Linked DNA regions of Homo sapiens: region 1 is linked to region 2. The links come from fine-mapping of genetic effects on gene expression. A gene starts in region 2. The other region holds a variant in brackets. All regions are shown on one strand. Distances are between the middles of the regions. Region 1 overlaps CSNK1G1 (casein kinase 1 gamma 1). Region 2 holds the start of PIF1 (PIF1 5'-to-3' DNA helicase).

Region 1 (10,505 bases), 530 kb before region 2:
CTGATCTCAGGAGTTTGAGACCAGCCTGACCAACATGGCGAAACCCCATCTCCACTAAAAATACAAAAATTAGCCGGCCGTGGTGGTGCACGCCTGTAACCCCAGCCACTCCAGAGGCTGAGGCAAGGCACGAGAATCACTTGAACCCAGGAGATGAAGGCTGCAGCGAGCCGAGATTGCAACACTGCACTCCAGCCTGGGCGAACAAGTGAGACTCTGTATCAAAAAAAAAAAAAAAAAATTCCGGAATTGTTTGGCAAGCCTGGAAATTTTACCATTACATTCTTCTGGTTAACCATTCAAGATGTCAATGCATAATCTTGCAAGTATTGTATCTGTGACACTTCTAAAATTACCATATTAATGCAATGCAGACTGTGTGTCACCTAATGTGGTTAGAACTCTTCATTTCTACTTTATTTTGATGGATTATGCTATTGACAGAAATAATTCTTCTCCAAGATCTGTTAAAACTGCTTAACCTTAACAAATTGTGCTTAAGTTAAACTAGGGTGTAATTCCAAAAGAAATTTAAACTACGATACTACTACAAACAAGAATCTCATATACATTTGATATTCTTCCAAGAAAATTAAAATGCACAACAAAAACAAAATAGACAAATGGGACTTAATTAAACTAAAAAGCATCTGCACAGCAAAAGAAATAAGAGAGTGAACAGACAACCTGCTGAATGGGAGAAAATATTTGCAAACTGCATCTAACAGGAAACTAATATCCAATTACAAGGATATTATAGTATTTACAATACTAATTGTAAGAATTTACAAGGAACTTAAACAAACAATAACAAAAAACCGTATAACCTCATCTAAAAGTGAGCAAAGGACATGAACATTTTTCAAATGAAGACATACAAATGACTTCATTTGAATGACATTTGAATGACATACAAATGACCAAGAAGCATATGAAAAAACGCTCAAAAGAACTAATCAGCAGAGAGATGCAAATTAAAACCACAATAAGATATAATTTTATACCAGTCAGAATGGCTATTATTATTATTTTTTGTTTTGTTGGTTTTTCCAATAAGCCTTTTACACTCCTAAGAATGGCTATTATTAAAAAGTCAAAAAATAAAAGATGTTGGCATGGGTGCAGAGAAGAGAGAACACTTATACACTGTTGGCGGGAATGTAAATGAGTGCACCCTTTATGAAAAACAGTATGGAAGTTTCCCAAAAAACTAAAACCACCATTTGATCCTGCAATCTCACTAATGGGTACCTACCCAAAGGAAAAGAAATCATTACATCAAAAAGACACCTGCATATGTTATGTTTATCGCCAAAAATACGGAAACAAGTGTCCCTCATGGATGATTTTATATATATATATACACATACACATACACACACACATTTTACACACACACACACACACAGGCAGACAGGCAATGAACTACTATTCCGCCCTTAAAAAAATAATAAAATTTCACGTTTTTTGCAGCAACATGGATGGAACTGCAGGCCATTAACTTAAGTGAAACAACTCAGAAACAGAAAATCAAAAAATGCATGCTTTCACTTATAAGTGGGAGCTAAATAATGTGTACACATGGACACAGAGTGTGGAATAATAGACACTGAAGACTTAAAAGGGTGGGAAAGAGGTGAGAAATGAGAAATTATTTAATGGATACAATGCATATTATTCAGGTGATAGTTACACAAAAAAACCCAGACTTCACCATTAGGGAATATATCCACATAACAACAAAAAAATTAGAATGCATTTTATCTAAAGTTATAATTTAATTTAATTTAATTCAATTAATTTATTTTTTTTGAGACAGAGTCTCGTTCTTGTCACCCAGACTAGAGTGCAATGGCACGATCTCAGCTCACCTCAGCCTCCCGAGTAGCTGGGATTACAGGCGCCCACAACCATGCCTGGCTAATTTTTGTATTTTCAGTAGAGACGGGGTTTCACCACGTTGGCCAGGCTGGTCTCCAACTCCTGACCTCAGATGATCTGTCTGCTTTGGCCTCCCAAAGTGCTGAGATTACAGGCGTGAGCCACCATGCCCAGCCAAGACTCCTATTTTTAATCACTTAAGCAGAAGAATGACATGACTTCTAAAACTTGTTTTAGTTTGTTCCATCCACAGAACCTAAAAATTTGTAAATTTATAAGAAAACTTTAACAAGGTTACAAATATATATCAATGTTTCTGGTTAATTAGGTGTTTGGCTGATACACTTTCATTTGTTTAAAATACCATGATTTTCTAAGAAACTATTAACTTAAAAGCAAAAATTTGATTTTAAAATGGCTTCATTTTGAACTAGAGAAGAAATACCTTTAAATTATGTTACATTTTGGTCTGGGTGCAGTGGCTCACGCCTGTAATCCCAGCACTTTGGGAGGCTGAAGCGGGCAGATCACTTGAAGTCAGGAGTTTGAGACCAGCCTGGCCAACATGGTGAAACCCCATCTTTACTAAAAATACAAAAAATTAGCTGGGTGTGGTGGTGGGCACCTGTAATCCCAGCTACTCAGAAGCCTGAGGCAGGAGAATTGCTTGAATCCAGGAGGTGGAGGTTGCGGTGAGCTAAGATCATGCCATTGCACTCCAGCCTGGGCAACAAGAGTGAAACTCCATCTCAAAAATAAAATAAAATAAAATTATGTTTCATCTTAAGCCTGCATTCTCTCAGATGATTTTCAAAAATGTTTAAAGCAGCAGAATCATACCTTTCAAACAAAATCTTATTGAAAACTCAAATGTATAAAATGTATAAAACAGATAACATGGAGAGTTCTGCCTGCTCACTTTTCTTTTCTCATTGACTTGGAGTGGAAAATAATGGATCTAAGACTGTGGGATATAATATGAAATGAACTGCTTTAGATAGTATTCATCTGTAAATTGTTAATAATTACAACTGCCAAAAAAAGAAAAGCTAGTAGCAGAAGTTAAAAGTTCCAATAAAAGCAGGGCGCAGTGGCTCACGCCTGTAATCCCAGCACTTTGGGAGGCCGAGGCAGGTGGATCACAAGGTCAGGAGATCGAGGCCATCCTGGCTAACATGGTGAAACCTCGTCTCTACTAAAAATACACATATTAAAAAAAAAAATTAGTCAGGCGTGGTGGCAGGCGCCTGTAGTCCCAGCTAGTCGGGAGGCTTAGGCAGGAGAATGGTGTGAACCTGGGAGGCGGAGCTTGCAGTCAGCCAAGATCGAGCCACTGCACTCCAGCCTGGGCGACAGAGCGAGACTCCGTCACAAAAAAAAAAAAAAAAAGTTCCAATTTAAGTTCACAAGTGACAGTTCAGTAATTCAGACAAGGAAAGAACAATATGCAGAGCCTGTCATATAAATCCTACATCAATCACAGAAATAAGTGTCTTACTTTAGAAGCCATGCAGGAGTGTCACAGAACAAGCTGCTACCCTTAGCCAATTTATTTACCTTTGTCAGAAGTATCCTGTGTTAATGCATTTTTGCATATTTCATCAGACACCAAAGATGGAAAAGATCAAAAAGGTTAATTTGTTGTGCCTCCATTTTGTTGTATGCAAGTAAAAACATCCTCTCACTCTATCCTACTTCAAAAGGATAATATGAATATTATTAAAATCATACGCCTGTCTCTCTAGTCTAACAGGTCTCCCATAAACATACGTGCACCCCTATGTGGATGTGAAAGAAATATCACCAGCCAGGTGCAGTGGCCCATGCCTGTAATCCTAGCACTTTGGGAGGCCGAGGTGGCTGGATCACTAGCTTAGGAGATAGAGACCATCCTGGCCAACTTGGTGAAACCTGTCTCTATTAAAAAAATACAAAAAATAATTAGCCGGGCATGGTGGCGGGCACCTGTAATCCCAGCTACTCAGGAGGCTGAGGCAGGAGAACTGCTTGAACCTGGGAGGCAGAGGTTGCAGTGAGCCAATATCGCGCCACTGCACTCCAGCCTGGTGATAGAGCGAGACTCCATCTCATAAATAAATAAATAAATAAATATCATCTATCTACTTATTCTTGCAACTAAGAAAAACATCAGCAATTATTTGTACATTGAGGATGTATATTTTCTTAACTCTAGAGGAAAATAATTTTATTTTAATGTTTACATGATTCTTTCCAGGCCTGATTCAGCAGAAGGCTCAAAACTTTAAAAATGAGAAAGTTCTCACAAGATTCCCCATGATTTTCAGTTAGTATCAATCTATAAAATCTGTTTTCATCCCATCATGTCCTCCTACCTACACAATCACTATCCATCAATTTTCCCTTCTGTCTTAAATCTTCATAATTCTCCTTTCATTGAGGCAGTACACAAAAGACTCCACAGAAATAATCTTTCCATTGAAAATGAGCAAAGGCCACATAGAAATACTCTTTAAAAAAATAAGCAAATATGTGTAAGTATGTTTAACTTCACCTATGAACACATACACATTTAAGTAATACCATTTTCCCCTATCAGACTGTCATAGATGAAAAGATTCTTGATATTGTTTAAGATTTCTGAAGCACTGGAGGAAATAAGCACAAGGACACACATACACACAAAGTGAAACATCTTTTTGGAGGGCAAACTGACAATGTGTAA[C/T]AAAATTGCAAACGTACATATCCTTTGACACAAAAAGTACGCTTCCAGGATGTAGTCTAAGAAATTAAACCAACTTTAAATACAAGGAGATCGAGTAGACCAGTGCCAGTCCGTGGCCCTGTTAGGAACCAGGCTGCATGGCAGGAGGTGAGCAGTGGGTAAGCAAGCATTACCACCTGAGTGCCACCTGAAAGATCAGTGGCAGCATTAGATTCTCACAGGAGTGCAAACCCTATTACTGTGCATGTGAGGGATCTAGCCTACATCTAATACTTGATGATCTAGGGTGGAACAGTTTCATCCTGAAACCATCCTCCACCCCTGGTACATGGAAAAATTGTCTTCCATGAAATGGGTCCCTGGTGCCAAAAAAGTTGGGGACTGCAGGAGTACTGTATTAATTATAGTATTAAAATACAAAATAATTTTTGTGTATATTGATAATGGCTAAATTGAATACTATAGAAATATTTAAAATTGATGAGATATATTTAAGTTGAAACAAGATGTTCATGCTCTATTAAGCAATAAAAAGAGGCTTCTTTTTTTGAGACGGAGTCTCACTCTGTCTCCCAGGCTGGAGTGCAGTGGTGCAGTCTCAGCTCACTGCAACCTCCATCTCCCAGGTTCAACTGGTTCTCCTGTCTCAGCCTTCCGAGTAGCTGGGATTACAGGCGTCCGTCACCAAGCCCGGCTAATTCTTTGTATTTTTAGTAGAGATGGGGTTTCACCATGTTGGCCAGGCTGGTCTCAAACTCCTGATCTCAGGTGATCCGCCCACCTCGGCCTCTCAAAGGGCTGGGATTACAGGCATGAGGCACCACGCCCAGCCATAAGAGGAAGCTTAGAGCACAATTTGATTGCATTTCTAAAATATGTCCTAATACACATTTTTGAGCTGTAGAAAATTAAACCATCATTACTGGTTATCTCCACAGACACCTCTAAAGTAGAATTAAAAAAAAATTTTAAGCAATAAGTGTATTTTCTTTTTAAAAAAATTTGCTTTAATGAAATTGTTTTGCTTTGATTACTACTTTTTGCTGATTACAAAATACACATGGCTCATTTTAAAAAGATAGGGAAGGGCCAGGAGTGGTGGCTCATACCTGTAATCCCAGCACTTTGGGAGGCCAAGGCAGGCAGATCACCTGAGGTCAGGAGTTCAAGACCAGCCTGGCCAACATGGTGAAACCCCGTCTCTACAAAAAATACAAAAAATTAGCTGGGCGTTGTGGCAGGTGCCTGTAATCCCAGCTACTTGGGAGACTGAGGCAGGAGAATCGCTTGAACTCAGGAGGCGGAGGTTGCAGTGAGCCAAGATCGTGCCATTGCACTCCAGCCTGGACAACAAGAGTGAAACTTCGTCTCAAAAAAAAAAAAAAAAAAAAAAAGAGGGTCGGGGGGTGGCCAGGCGCGGTGGCTCATGCCTATAATCCCAGCACTTTGGGAGGCCGAGGTGGGTAGATCACAAGGTCAGGAGATCAAGACCATCCTGGCTAACATGGTGAAACCCCATCTCTAGTTTGGTGTGATTTCTTAATCCCTATCTCAAGCCTAACTTTCTAAGTCTCAGATATGCATTTCTGCATATGTGTCACCCAGTCCTCAAATATTCACAAACTCTATCTTACCTGCCTTCCCAACCACTCTCCCTAGTCCTATATTTACTATCTCAATTAACTCATTTATGCCTAGTGTTCCATTATTGGAACGCTAGGCTGGTGGGAGTTATTTATATACACTGCTCGAGGTCATCACCAAGGTCTGATTTTTCACAAAAAAATTTGCAGCTTCCGGCATAAATGGGTTTACATCTTCCTCATTTATAAGGTCTCTTCAAGCTGGCACATTTAGTCATCTTTGACTTCTTCCCATCAAATAATTAGTGACTAAATCCTGCCTAAAGTCTATGTCTAAAATTTCTAATTTACCCTGTCCTCTCTCCATCTCACTTCCATTTTCAGAGCTAAGACCAAAGGCCCTGCTACTTCTGACCTGGACAATTCAGCCTTTCTTGAGTACCCATTACATACCACACACAGTGAAAGGAATTAGAATATGAGGACTAAAAAGCAAAGTAATACCCTTACACCTATCTTGGGAGAGAGAAATGGAAGAATAAAGTACAACATGATAAGTATTACAATTAGAGCAAAATCTACAAGATGTCAACTTCTTTCCTATTTGATCTAATCTTACAATACAACCCGAATTCTCTTTCTGGAATATAAACTAGATTATGTCACTCTGTTGTAAAACTCCTGATGATTCGACCCCATTGCCTACAGGATAAAGTCCAAATGCTTTAATATATGCAAACACTTCACAATTTCGTCCCAACTTACCTAAAAGCTTCATTCTATTACTTTTCTTTCACTTCACATCCTATGACCCAGTCATGTATAACTAAATGCTGCTGTGATATGCTGGGCACTTGCACAGTATCTAGTGATTGTGTATCCTGCACAAGCTCTTCTTCCTTATGTCTACCAGCAGAAATCCTGTCCTATCATCAAATCATACCTCCTCTTTGAAGCCTTTATTAACCTTCTCTGCCAATGTAGTTTCCATACAATCTGGTTTTTTGTTTGTTTGAGACACGGTCTCACTCTGTCGCCCAGGCTGGAGTGCAGTGATGTGATCTTGGCTCATGGTAGCATCAGGCTCCCAGGCTCAAGCCATCCTCCCATCTCAGCCTCCCAAGTAGCTAGGACTACAGGTGCATACCACCACACCCAGCTAATTTTTGTATTTTTTGTAGAGACGAGGTTTTGCCACGTTGCTCATGTTGGTATTGAAATCCTAAGCTCAAGTCATCTGCCTGCCTTGGCCTCCCAAAGTGCTGGGATTACAGGCATAAGCCACTACACCCAGCCCCCAATCTGCTATATTATCACTTTGTATTGCAATTTGTTTTTCTCTGTCTACCACTAGACTGTGGTATTTGTAGAGACAAAAACTATATCTTCTTATTTCTATCCTTCCCAGAGTCTAGTATCAGTAAATATTCAAGAAATAGTTGTTAAATGTATGATGAAGGCTGGGTGCAGTGGCTCACGCCTGTAATCCTAGCACTTTGGGAGGCTGACGTGGGCAGATCACCTGAGGTCAGGAGTTCGAGACCAGCCTGGCCAACATGGTGAAACCCTGCCTCAACTAAAAATAAAAAATTAGCCGGGCATGGAGGCACACGCCTGTAATCCCAGCTACTTGGGAGGCTGAGACAGGAGAATCACTTGAACCCGGGAGGCAGAGGTTGCAGTGAGCCGAGATTGTGCCACTGCACTCTAGCCTGGGCAAAAAGAGCAAAACTCCATCTAAAAGAAAAAAAAAAAAGAAAACTGTATAATGGGGTGGAAACATTTGCAGAGAACCAAAATGCACTATCGTTACTTTTTTTTTTTTTTTTTTTTTTTTGCTGTTTGGAACCGATAGGTCTACTATCTACCACCACCCCCACATAAACCTGGAGCCCAAAGAAAGTATGCTTTATTTTCCCCCCTCTTCCTATTCATCAGCTTTTTATCCTTCCATCTCATAAATAACAGTAAACAATACAGAAAGAATCCCTGCCCTTTAAAGGGCTTATATTCAAGTAAGGAGAGGCAATTAATAGGGAAACATACATATGGTCATTTCAGATAGTGATGAATGCAATGAATAAAATAAAGCAGTTTGACGAGACAGGATGTGCTAGAGAAGAAACGTGCTATTTTAAATGAGAATGAGGAACAAGTGATAGAATGTTTCTCTGAGAAGGTAAGACATAAGCTGAGGCCTAAAGGATGAGAAACAACCCACTACGCAAAATTTTAGGGAAATAATTCTGCAAGCAGAAGGAATTGCAAGTGTAAAGGCTCTGAAGCAGAAATGCACACGGTTGGTCAGGTGTGGCGGCTCACATCTGTAATCCCAACACTTTGGAAGGCCAAGGCAGGAGAATCGCTTGAGGCCAGGAGTTCAAGACCAGCCTGCAAAACATCATCTCTACAAAACATTTAAAAATAAAAAAATTAGCTGGGCGTGTTCTTATGCACTAGCTATTAAGGAGGCTGAAGTAGGAGGATCGCTTGAGCCTGGGAGTTGGAGGCTGCGTGAGCTATGATCATGCCACTGCACTCCAGGGCGGGTAACAGAGCAAGACCCTGTCTCTCAAAAAAAAAAAAAGAATAAGAAGAAATGCACTTGGCTGTTTGACAGACTGTGTGTCTAGGAAAGGAAATTAGTTTAGAGAAGCAGAGCTTTGTAGGTGGTAGCCATGATGTAGGCTGACTGCACCTGCCTTGACTTTGGAATTTTGTAGTTTACAATCTTCTCCTCGCTAATATTAGAACAAGAAAATGACGGAATGGGGTATGCAGCCCACTCTATTGTCAGGAAGATGCCAGATAATTCTGAAAGTATCTTTTCTAGATACAAGGCCATAACAGTATGGTCCCAGGGCTAATGAAAACTTGATAAGCAGAGAAGAGTAAAAGCACATGAAAAGAAAGACAAGTTCTTCTGACTACAGGCAAGTCCAAATGAGAAACATCAAAATTATCTCAGATTCAAAGAGGAAACAAAACACAATACTACTCTGAAAATATATATGGGCTATAAATGTATGCTTTTAACTGAATGAATTTTTCCCTTCCCACGTAAACTTATAATACAAATCTAGACTTCAGTGATTAAACAGATTTCCACTTTTAATTCACCAAGGTTTTTCTTCACTTTCACAGAAATGAAACAATTGTCTGATGTTTTGAGAATTCAAAGATTTAGATGCTTTAGAAACTGCCTCTTAGCAATCATTTTATGGATGTTTATGTCATAATTATTTAATCCATCCAAGTAGTACTGTGATGTTACAGTCAATTTATGACATAAAGAAATATTCACAGAACTATTCGTTAAAGCAACTCTGTGATTGCTAGAAAGTAAAGCAGTAATTACACATCTTACTCGTATTGTAAGTAGCATCTGCTGGCTTTGGTAACCCGAACACAATTCTAAATATAAAGATCCTTTCATTATCCTAATTAAGTCCTGAATTTCCAGGTTGTCAGCCTTCTAACAGTAAAAATAAATCCATTCTCATCATTCTTAAATTCAAATGGTCTCTGGCTAGTATAGTGATGTTTCTCCAAGGCTCTCTATGGGGGATCAGAGATAAGATTTTGTCCATGTTCTCTATGCAGGACCATCACAAGTAGCAGAGGTGGTCAGGCGTAGTGGCTCAGCCTGTAATCCCAGCACTTTGGGAGGCCGAGGCGGGTGGATCACTTGAGGCCAGGAGGTCAAGACCAGCCTGGCCAATATGGCAAGAGCCCGTCTCCACAAAAATACAAAAAAAAAAAAAATAAGCTGGGCATGGTGGCACATGCCTGTAAGTCCCAGCTACTCTGGAGGATGAGGCACAAGAATCACTTGAACCTGGGAAGAGGAGGTTGCAGTGAGCTGAGATCGCACCACTGCACTCCAGCCTGGGTGACAGAGCAACACTCCATCTCAAAAAGAAAAAGAAGTAGCAGAGGTAACAAACATAATTACATTATGTTCCCACCCTCCCACCACTCCCCCCAAAGGGCCAAAGTTTCTTACAATGAGTCTTCACATTAATCCACAGTCTCAAGAGCTATGAAGGAAAAGAAAACACTTTAGCCTAAAAGATGACCTTTCCACATTCTCCAGGCTAATTTCCAACTTCATATATTTATACGGCCTTTTATTTTCTCTATCCCACTCATCAAGGGAGAGCCATTAAAAAGTATATAAATGGCCGGGCGCGGTGGCTCACGCCTGTAATCCCAGCACTTTGGGAGGCCGAGGCGGGCGGATCACGAAGTCAGAGGATCAAGACCATCCTGGCTAACATGGTGAAACCCTGTCTCTACTAAAAATACAAAAACAAAATTAGCCGGGCGTGGTGGCG
Region 2 (10,505 bases):
CACACCTCTTCCAGCTCTTGGACTGGTGGGGGCAGGGTGGGGGTGGGTCAAGGAGCAGAGCAGACCCCCAAGGAGAGCAGAGCTAGGAGGTGAGTAATACCTGGAAGCAGAACCGTGGGGGCTGGGAGCCCTTGGTCACAGGTGGCAGCTGCAGAAAGTCCCCACAGATGATGAGCTGGATCCCTCCGAATGGCTTGTTCTGCTGCCGGACAGCTCTGGAGAGGAGCGTGGGGTGCTTTAGGGGCACACAGAAGACCACCAGGTCCCAGTTCTCACCTGCTGCCCTCTGAACATACTGACCTGGCCACGGCCTCCAGTTTGTCAAACAGGTCTGCCTCCACCATTGAGATCTCGTCAATGACCAACCGCTGGCAGTTCAGCCAGCCCTGCCGCACGCCTGGCCTTTGGGCCAGGGCCACACACTGGGCTAGAGGAGCCTGGCCTGAGCCGATGCCTGTGAGTGACACTATTCAGCCTGGGCTAATACCCAAAGCCTCTCTTTTTTTTTTTTTTTTTTTTTTTTGAGAGAAGGTCTCTTTCTGTCACCCAGGCTGAAGTGCAGTGGCACGATCTTGGCTCACTGTAACCTGGGCCTCATGGGCTCAAGCGATCCTCCCACCTCAACCTCCATAGTAGCTGGGACTACAGGCACACACCACCATGCTCAGCTAATTTTGTTTTGTTTTGTTTTGAGATGGAGTCTCGCTGTGTCGCCCAGGCTCAAGTGCAGTGGCGTGATCTCGGCTCACTGCAAGCTCTGCCTCCTGGGTTCACGCCATTCTCCTGCCTCAGCCTCCAGAGTAGCTGGGACTACAGGCGCTTGCCACCATGCCTGGCTAATTTTTTTGTATTTTTAGTAGAGACAGGGTTTTACCGTGTTAGCCAGGATAGTCTTGATCTCCTGACCTTGTGATCCGCCTGCCTCGGCCTCCCAAAGTGCTGGGATTACAGGCGTGAGCCACTGCGCCCGGCCGCTAATTTTTAAATTTTGTGGAGACAGGGTTTACTGTGTTGGCCAGGCTGGTCTCAAACTCCTGGGCTCAAGCGATCCTCCCACCTTGGCCTCCTAAAGTTTTGGGATTACAAGAGTGAGCCACGGCGCCCAGCCCCCAAAACTCCCTCTTTATGCAGACCTCCCCTCTCTCCCTTCCCAGAAGCTGGGCTTGCTCTTAGCTCAAGCCCTAGGGGTTCCTACTTACCTGCAAAGGCATGGAGGGTGGTGCCCCCGATGTGGCAGGCTGCCACCCCAGTGCTGGCAGTGGCCACAGTGCCTGTGGGGGGCAGTGAGCCCAGGATTCGCTTTAGCAGATATGACTTCCCTGTTCCTGGACAGGGGCAAAGTTAGACAGGTCTCCCTGTTCCTCTATCCCACCCCACCACTGTCCCCCTACCTCCTCTCTGCCCCCACTACCTGCACTCCCAGTGAAGAAGATGCTCTGGCCTTTCAGGACGGCCCTCAGCACAGCAGCCTGTTCCTCAGAAAGCTGTGGCTTGGTGGAGGGCAAGCTCAGCCTCTTCACAGGCAGGGGCCACCTTGGGGCTTCCTGGGGGGAACAGAGCTATCTCAGAGCATCCTCCCACCCGCTAGGCATTGCCCCCACCCTTCTTGGCCCATGTGCAATGCTGGGCCTGGTAACCCTTTGTCCTCTACTGCCTTCATTCCATGGAGCTCTTGGGTTTGCCTGGAGAGCTTGCCAGCAACTATTGGGGTCCCGATCTCTCCTTGTGCCCTGAAGACCCCCATTGTCCAGTCCTGGGCAGACCACACCAGTGTGGTCTACACCCTCCCTTAGCTCCTTCCCCTGGGTTCCCTAACCCTTCTCATCCTGTCACTAAAGTTTCCTTCCTGTCACCTAAGTTTCTCTTCCTATCACAAACCTGTTTCTCACCTCAAAATACCCAAGCAAAACCCTGTCTAGCCAGGGCCCCTTCTTATCCTGTCTCTGTCCTCTCGCCAGCTTAGTGTCAAACCCTGGTGGGCTATGATTCACCTGCCCCAGCCCATGAAAATTGTCAAACCCACCAGACTTTTTTCCCCTCATCTGCTTCAACTGTTGGCTGCCCAGGACACGAATGACCACTTCATTCTCTCCATAAGCTCCTCTACTCTGGGCCTATTACCCTCTCCCAGCATTCTTTCTGTAGTCCTTTGCAAGCCTCCTTCTCTTCTTTCTCTCTCGCTCTCTCTTTTTTTTTTTTGAGGAAGAGTCTCGCTCTGTCACCCAGGCTGGAGTGCAGTGGCGCGATCTAGGCTCACTGCAACCTCTGCCTCCCGGGTTCAAGCTATTCTCCTGCCTCAGCCTCCCAAGTAGCTGGGATTACAGGCGCCCGCCACCGCGCCTGGCTAATTTTTGTATTTTTAGTAGATACGAGGTTTCACCATGTTGGCCAGGCTGGCCTCAGAACTCCTAACCTCAGGTGATCCACTTTAGCCTCCCAAAGTGCTGGGATTACAGGCGTGAGCCACCATGCCCGGCCTCTGCTTTCTCTTTTAATGTAGCCAGGTCCCATTTCCTGTTTTGATTTACTCCATCTCAGGGATTACACTATAACAACCACAGGCACAATTCCCACACCCCTGTCATACTGAGATGTCAGATGGGTATCAAATACCCACACCGGCTTCCCCTCAAACTTGGGTCTCTAGGTCTCTGCCATCTTAAAGAATGGCACATCTACTCCTAAAGGTGTCCCTTCTTTCCCGTCCTCACTGTGCTAGGCTCGGCCCCAGCCTGGGGCTCCACAGGCCGCTTCACCAGCGTAGTGTCCGGAACCCGGGTGGCCGCCCTGAGCCGCCGCTCCTCGGGCTGCACAGGGCTGATGGTGACGAAGTCGCGGGGCCGCGGGCCCAGCAGCTGCGCTCGGGCGGAGGCCGGCCCGGGACCCGGGGCCGCAGCCAGCTTGAGGCGCAATGTGCGCAGGAAGCGGCGCAGGCGGTCTGGGGGGCAGTCCGAGAGCAGCAGCTGCACTGCGCCGGCCCCGGGGGTGTCGTGGGCGGGGAGCCGCAGGGTGCTGCGCCCGGCCTCGGCGAAACGCGTGAAGAGGCGCGCGGCGCGCAGAGGAAAGCAGCGCGGCCGCCCCGCGGGCCCTGGCGCTTGCAGCCGCAGCATCAACTCGCGGCGCTCGTTGCGACCCAGGCTCAGCTCCGCGGTGCGCAGGGCCTGGCGCCTTCGCGGCTGCCCGCCCGGGCTCAGCTCCTCCACAGCCACGCGGCACCGCAGCTCCGAGTCCTCATATTCCCCTGCCGCCGCCTCTATGCCCGAGAGCATCGTCACCGCCTCTGCTGGTCTGCGAAGACACCGGAGCACAGGGGTCATGAGGATTCATGAGACGTAATGGGTGCTATAGGGGACGTAATGGGTGCTATAAAGGACGTGACAGGGAGCAGGGTCAAGGCTACACAAGATCACGAGGACTGTCACTGGTAACACAAAGAGGTCACAAAGACGGAGAAAGGGCTTTGGGCTAACCGAAAATCCACCCTTAGAATATGCCCTGGGCCGGGCGCAGTGGCTCGCGCTTTAATCCCAGCACTTTGGGAGGCTAAAGTGGGCGGATCACCTGAAGTTAGGAGTTCTGAGACCAGCCTGGCCAACATGGTGAAACCTCGTCTCTACTAAAAATACAAAAATTAGCCGGGCGTGGTGGCGGGCGCTTGTAATTCCAGCACTTTGGGAGGCTGAAGAAGGAAGATCGCTTGAGCCCAGGAACTCGAGACCATCCTGGGCAACATAGCGACACCCTCTAATTAAAAAAAAAATACATACATATAAATACATACATATGCATACATTATATATATGTGTGTGTGTGTGTGTATATATATGTATATATATATATACACACACGCACCCTGCTACACAATTTCCATTTCTATATATCCAATTTCTATATATATATACACACAATATATATACAATTTCTATATATATACACACACACACACACACACATATACACACACACCGTGCTACACAACAATTTCCAGAGCGGCGGATGGGCACCGAGGATTAGGGAGCCTCAGGTGTCCTGCAAGGACCTCACTAGAACAGGGGTCCCTGCGCAGAAAGAATCCTCCTTCCCCGAGACCCAGGGCGAGCACATGAATCCTCAGAGTACTCTCCCCAGGAAGCAGGAGAATCGCCCGTGGGGAGATGCAAAGAGGGCTGCCGTGTAATAAGCGACTTCTGCCTTGTAGGTACATTCACTGGCTTATATGCAGCGGGCAGGTCTCACTCTTCCCCGTGTACAGACGTGGAAACAGGCTAAGAGAGGGAAACTCACTTGCCCTTCATAAGCCACAGCGGCTAGTAGTCAAAGTCAGTGTGATTCCCATGCCCTCGCGCTTCCCACCACCAAGGTGGGGACGAGGTGGAAAATATTCGGCTAGGGAAATCGCGGGGGACCCTGGGACCCTAGAAGCCGTGCTCCCTCAGGCTGACCCATTTGTTTGCACCCTCCCGCCGGAAACCCCTAGATAAATCAGGCTCTTTGCTCCCCACCTCTGGGTTCGGGCAGACACTCACTTGTGCCGACACTCAGATGAACAAGCAGATCGTAGCCGGCCTGTGGCTAAGCTCCGAAACTAGAAATTTTTCAAATGCTAGAGGCAGAAAATCACCCAATCACCGACTGGATCTTTAAATTCTCCAGCCACTCAGAGGTAGGGGCGTAACAATGGGCGTGTCTTTCTTTGCGTCTCTACTCCAGGAGCTTGGGCTGTACCAATTGCCTGCTAGAGGAAGGAGGTTTATGGTGGTGGCTGAGCATACCAAATCCAGTGGACGGCTGGGCGTGGTGGGAGGAGGCCGCCGCTGCGGCAGCCACCCGGCGGCGCGTGGTGTCGGGTCTGAAAACCCTACGCGACTCCGAAGATTTATTTTCAGAACCATCCTTCCAGCACACTCCCTCTCCCCTCTAGCCCGCACACAGAGGCTGGGCTTAGCCTTGGGGAAGATCTGCCTTTGGACTCTCACACCCCTGTTTACACTCACAGTACCATTGTCCAGTTCTGGGCAGACCACCCCAAGGCCTGCCCAATCCCTCCCCCGCCCCCAACTCTACATCCTTCTCTGCCTTTGTAAGGGACTTTACGCTTTGGCTCTCTCACCCACCTGAGGCCCATGAGTGAGAAACTCTGAGACCTGTGCCACGTGCCAGAGGGTACAGCGGAAGCGAGTAGAGTCTCTGTCTTCAGGGAAATTGTATCCCTCTTCTTGCACAGGATGCTGAAAGAATTTACTTTTAATCATCTTTATTATCTCATTGAAGCTTGGAATTACATAGCTGGAAAGGATCTTACAGGTGAGTCTGGCTACCTCATTTTACAGATAATGATAACTACCATGGATTAAATTGCCCTTTCCTTTCCTTTTTCCTTCTTAGGGCTCACTCTGTCGCCCAGGCTGTAGTGGAGTGCAGTGGCACAATCTCTGCTCACTGCAACCTCTGCCGTGGCGCGATCGTGGCTCACTGCAACCTCCGCCTCCTGGGCTCTGGTGATCCTCCCGCCTCAGCCCCCCAGGTAGCTGGAACTACAGATGCACACCCAGCTAATTTATATATATATATATATATATATATATATATATATATATATACACACACACACACATATATACACACACATATATATACACACACATATATATATACACACACATATATATATATACACACACATATATATATATAATTTTTTTTTCGTATAGACGGGATGTCACCATGTTTCCCAGGCTTGTCTCGAACTCCGGAGGTCAAACGATCCACCCACCGTGGCCTCCCGAAGTCCTAGGATTACAGGCATGAGCCCGGACCTTATTTTTCAAATGAGAAAAAAGCAAGGCTTCCAGAGATTTTACTGAAGGTCACATAGCTGATATGGAGAGCAAAACCAAACATTGAACCCAGATTACCTGCTCGCTTAATCACTCCATGGGGCTTAGCTACTACACCACACTGCTCCCAGTCTGTTAGCGGTAGAGGGTGATGACTGAAAGTTGTCCAGGTTCTTGGCGTTTTGAACAAAGAATTGGACAAAATGCCCATCAAAGCAAAGAAAGAATGAAGCAACAAAAGAACAAAAGCAGGAATTTTTTGAAAACGAAAGTACGGCTAGGCGCGGTGGCTCACGCCTGTAATCCCAGCACTTTGGGAGGCCGAGGTGGGGGGATCACTTGAGGTCAGCAGTTCCAGACCACCCTGACCAACATGGTGAAACCCTGTCTCTACTAAAAATACAAAAATTGCCGGGTGTCGTCGTGGACATCTGTAATCCCAGCTGCTTGGGAGGCTGAGGCATGAGAATCACTTGAATCCAGGAGGCAGAAGATACAGTGAGCCTGGATCGTGCCGCTGCACTCCAGCCTGAGCGACAGAACGAGAACTTGTCTCAAAACAAACAACAACAACAAAAAACAAAAACGAAAGTACACTCCACAGTGTGGGAGGGGACCCGAGATACAGAATTTTCTTGGGTTCAAATACCCCCTAGAAGTTTCCCATTGGGAACTTTACGCTTACTTCATGTAACTGAAGTGGTAGCGATAATCAGTCTGATTGGTTGCAGACAGCAACCATTCAGCCACCATTCAGAGGCTGGAGTGAAGTTACAAAGTTGCAAACGAAGACTGGACCCACACTCCTATGATTTGTTGCAGACAGCCAATCTCCCATCTGCCAATCTCCCATCTGCCATGCGGGAAACGTCAAAGGGAGTAGCCTTTGGTCCTTTTGTTCTTGTCCTTACTTAGGAGTGGAAAGTTAGAGTTTTCCTTTTTTTTTTTTTTTTTTTTTTTTTTTTTTGGGAGACAGCGTCTGGCTCTGTGCTCTGTTGCCCAGGCCGGAGTGCAGTGGCAGGATCTCGGCTCACTGCAACTTCTGCCTCCTGGGTTCAAGCGATTCTTCTGCCTCAGCTTCCCAAGTAGCTGGGACTACAGGTGCGTGCCACCATGCCCATTTAATTTTTGTATATTTGGTAGAGATGGGGTTTCACCATATTGGCCAGGCTGGTCTCGAACTCCTGACTTCGTGATCCGCCTACCTCGGCCTCCCAAAGTGCTGAGATTACAGGCGTGAGCCACCATGCCCGGCCAGGGTTTTCTTTTTTCTTCTTCTTCTTCTTCTTATTTTTTTGAGGTGGAGTCTCTATTTGTTGCCAGGCTGGAGTGCAGAGGCGCTATCTTGGCTCACTGCAACCTCTGCCTCCCCCATTCAAGCGATTCTCCTGCCTTAGCCTCCCAAGTAGCTAGGACTACAGGTGCATGCCACCATGCCCAGCTAATTTTTGTATATTTAGTAGAGACGGGGTTTCACCATGTTGGCCTGGATGGTCTCAATCTCTTGACATTGTGATCTGCCCGCCTCGGCCTCCCAAAGTGATGGGATTACAGGTGTGAGCCACTGTGCCCAGCCGGGTTTTCCTTTTAATTTAATTCTAGGAAGTCGGCGTGAAACAGCCTTAGGTTCCCTGCCTCCAGACCCTGTTCTTCTGCCTCAAGGTGACTGGCCTAGCTTCATGAAAGGTATAACCTGGACTGGAATCTCAGCTAGTAACAGCCACTGCAATGCCTTTCCAGTGGATGCTACCCTAAGCAGGTTTCCATAATGTCTCAAGCCTCTGTTTTCTCAAAATGGGAGAAAGATAAAAATAGTCTAAAATTGATTGGTGATAGTTGCACAACCCCGTGACTATACTGAAAACCATTGAATCGAATGCTTTGAATGCTTAAATTGTATGGTATGTGAATTATATCTCCATAAACCTGTTAGAAATCTTTTTTTTTTTTTTGAGACAGGTTGTCACTCTGCCACCCAGGCTGGAGTACAGTGGCACAATCATAACTCACTGCCGCCTTGACCTTCCTGCTCAAGTGATCCTCCCATCTCAGCCTCCCAAGTAGTTGGAACTACAGATGACTACCACCACGCCTAGCAAATTTTTGTATATTTTATAGAGACTAGGGTCTCGCCATGTTGCCCAGGCTGGTCTCGAACTCCTGGTCTCAAGAGATCTGCCAGCCTCAGCCTGCCAGAGTGCTGGGATTACAGGAGGGTGCCACCATGCCTGGCTGGAAAGAAATCTTGAGAGATATTTTTCTTCTCCAGTGTTGTCTTGACATATATTGAATATCAGTGGCATGCGTCATTGTGTATGAGTAAATGAGTAGGTTAAGAAAAATTTTCAGCTGGGTGTGGTGGCTCACGTCTGTAATCCCACCACTTTGGGAAGCTGAGGCAGGTGGATCATGAGGTCAGGAGTTCAAGACCAGCCTGGCCAAGGTGGTGAAACCCCATCTTTACTAAAAATACAAAAATTAGCTGGGTGTGGTTGCAGGCATCTGTAATCCCAGCTACTCGGGAGGCTGAGGCAGGAGAATCGCTTGAACCCAGGAGACAGAGGTTGCAGTGAGCCAGGATCGCACCACTGCACTCCAGGCTGGGCGACAGAGCGAGACTCTGTCTCAAAAAAAAAAAAAAAAAAAAAAAGAGAAAAGTTTTCAAGGTCATTATGGTAGGCAGAATAATGACCCCCTTCCCCAAAATGTCCATGTTCAAATCCCTAGAATTTGTGAATATTATCTTACATTGGCAAAAGGGACTTTGCAGATATGATTAAGTTTTTTTTGTTGTTTGTTTTTTTTTTTTGAGGCGGAGTTTCACTCTTTTTGCCCAGGCTAGAATGCAATGGCATGATCTCAGCTCACTACAATCTCCACCTCCCGGGTTCAAGCAATTCTCCTGCCTCAGCCTCCCTAGTAGCTGGGATTACAGGCATGCGCCACCACACCTGGCTAATTTTGTATTTTTAGTAGAGACAGGGTTTCTCCATGTTGGTCAGGCTGGTCTTGTACTCCTACCTCAAGTGATCCGCCCACCTCGGCCTCCCAAAGTGCTGGGATTACAGGCGTTAGCCACCACACCCGATCATGGTTAAGTTTTTTGAGATGAAGATGTTATTCTGGATTATATGAGTGGCCCAATGTAATCACAGGGGAAAGAAGGAAACAGGAGTCAGAGAAGATATGACAAAGGAAGTAGAGTTGAGAGAGAGAGAAAGAGAGACGTGAAGATGTTACTGCTGGCTTTGAGGTTGGAGGCAAGGGCCACAGACTAAACCAAGGAAGGCAGGAGCTCTCTAGAAGCTGGAAAGGGCAGGGAAATGGATTATCTCCTGGAGTCTCCAGAAGAAAAACAGCTTTTGATTTTAGTACAGTAGGACACATTTCAGACTCCTGGCTTCCAGAATGACAAGATGATAAATTTTTGTTGTTTTAAGCCACTAAATGTATGATAATTTGTTATAGCAGCCATAGAAATAAGAAACAAATACAGCCACATAGAGAGAAAATGAAAGAGCTGGGATTATGAACCCAGGTCTGTTTCCAAAGCCTGTGTTCTCTCTTTCCACTGCTCTCTGCTTACAATGGGCCTAGCGCACTTACACACAGGGGAAGCCAAATCCCTTACCCTGATTCTGTGTGCAATACCCCAGACTGCTTCAAGGGAAGGCACCAGAATGTCCCAATGGATTTTCTCTTAATATGTTTTTTTTTGTTTTGGCTTTCAAACTTTTTTTTTTTCTTTTTTTGAGACAGTCTCGCTCTGTCGCCCAGGCTGGAGTGCAGTGGCGCAATCACGGCTCACTGCAAGCTCCGCCTCCCGGGTTCACGCCATTCTCCTGCCTCAGCCTCCCGAGTAGCTGGGACTACAGGCGCCCGCCACTACGCCCAGCTAATTTTTTGTATTTTTAGTAGAGACGGGGTTTCACCGTGTTAGCCAGGATGGTCTCGATCTCCTGACCTCGTGATCTGCCCGCCTCTGCCTCCCAAAGTGCTGGGATTACAGGCGTGAGCCATCGCGCCCGGCCTTGGCTTTCAAACTTTTTAAAAACAATTGTGGAAAAATATACACGACATTTATCGTTTTAATTATTTTTAAGTGTATAATTCATGGCATTAAGTACATTCCAAATGTATAACCATCACCACAATTTAATTAATTAATTAATTTATTTATTTATTTTGAGACAAAGTCTCACTCTGCTGCTCAGGCTAGAGTACAATGGCACGATCTCGGCTCACTGCAACCCCTGCCTCCTGGGTTCAAGCGATTCTCCTGCCTCCGATTCCCGAGTAGCTGGGACTACACCTGCCTGCCACCACGCCCGGCTAATTTTTGTATTTTTAGTAGAGACGGGGTTTCACTATGCTGGCCAGGCTGGTCTCGATCTCCCGACCTCAGGCGGTCCACCTGCCTCGGCCTCCCCAAGTGCTGGGATTACAGGCATGAGCCACTGCACCTGGCCACAATTTATTTATTTATTTTTTCACTTTCCCCCACAATTTATTTTTGAATGTTTTCATTATTTCACATAGAAACTTCATCCAGTTCAGGCGTGGTAGCTCACGCCTATAATCCCAGCACTTGGGGAGGCCAAGGCGGGTGGATTACCTGAGGTCAGGAGTTTGAGGCCAGCCTGACCAACAAAGTGAAACCCCATCTCT

The links.
Region 1: its variant is fine-mapped to the expression of PIF1 in whole blood (TOPMed, PIP above 0.99).

What each region holds. Positions count from the first base shown.
Region 1 is chr15:64,288,957-64,299,461 of GRCh38, forward strand. The region is part of intron 2 of CSNK1G1 (casein kinase 1 gamma 1); the gene reads right to left. Among named protein-coding and RNA genes, the nearest start is that of CSNK1G1, 62 kb to the right of the region's middle. The variant C/T (reference allele first, on the strand shown) is at 4,586.
Region 2 is chr15:64,821,067-64,831,571 of GRCh38, forward strand. It overlaps PIF1 (PIF1 5'-to-3' DNA helicase), which reads right to left and starts at 4,581. Exons shown (of 13, transcript NM_001286496.2): 1 at 4,503-4,581; 2 at 2,712-3,288; 3 at 1,412-1,544; 4 at 1,200-1,325; 5 at 301-454; 6 at 101-215; 7 at 1-22. The coding sequence starts at 3,269. RefSeq lists enhancers at 814-1,315, 2,857-3,524, 4,714-4,843 and a silencer at 2,666-3,155.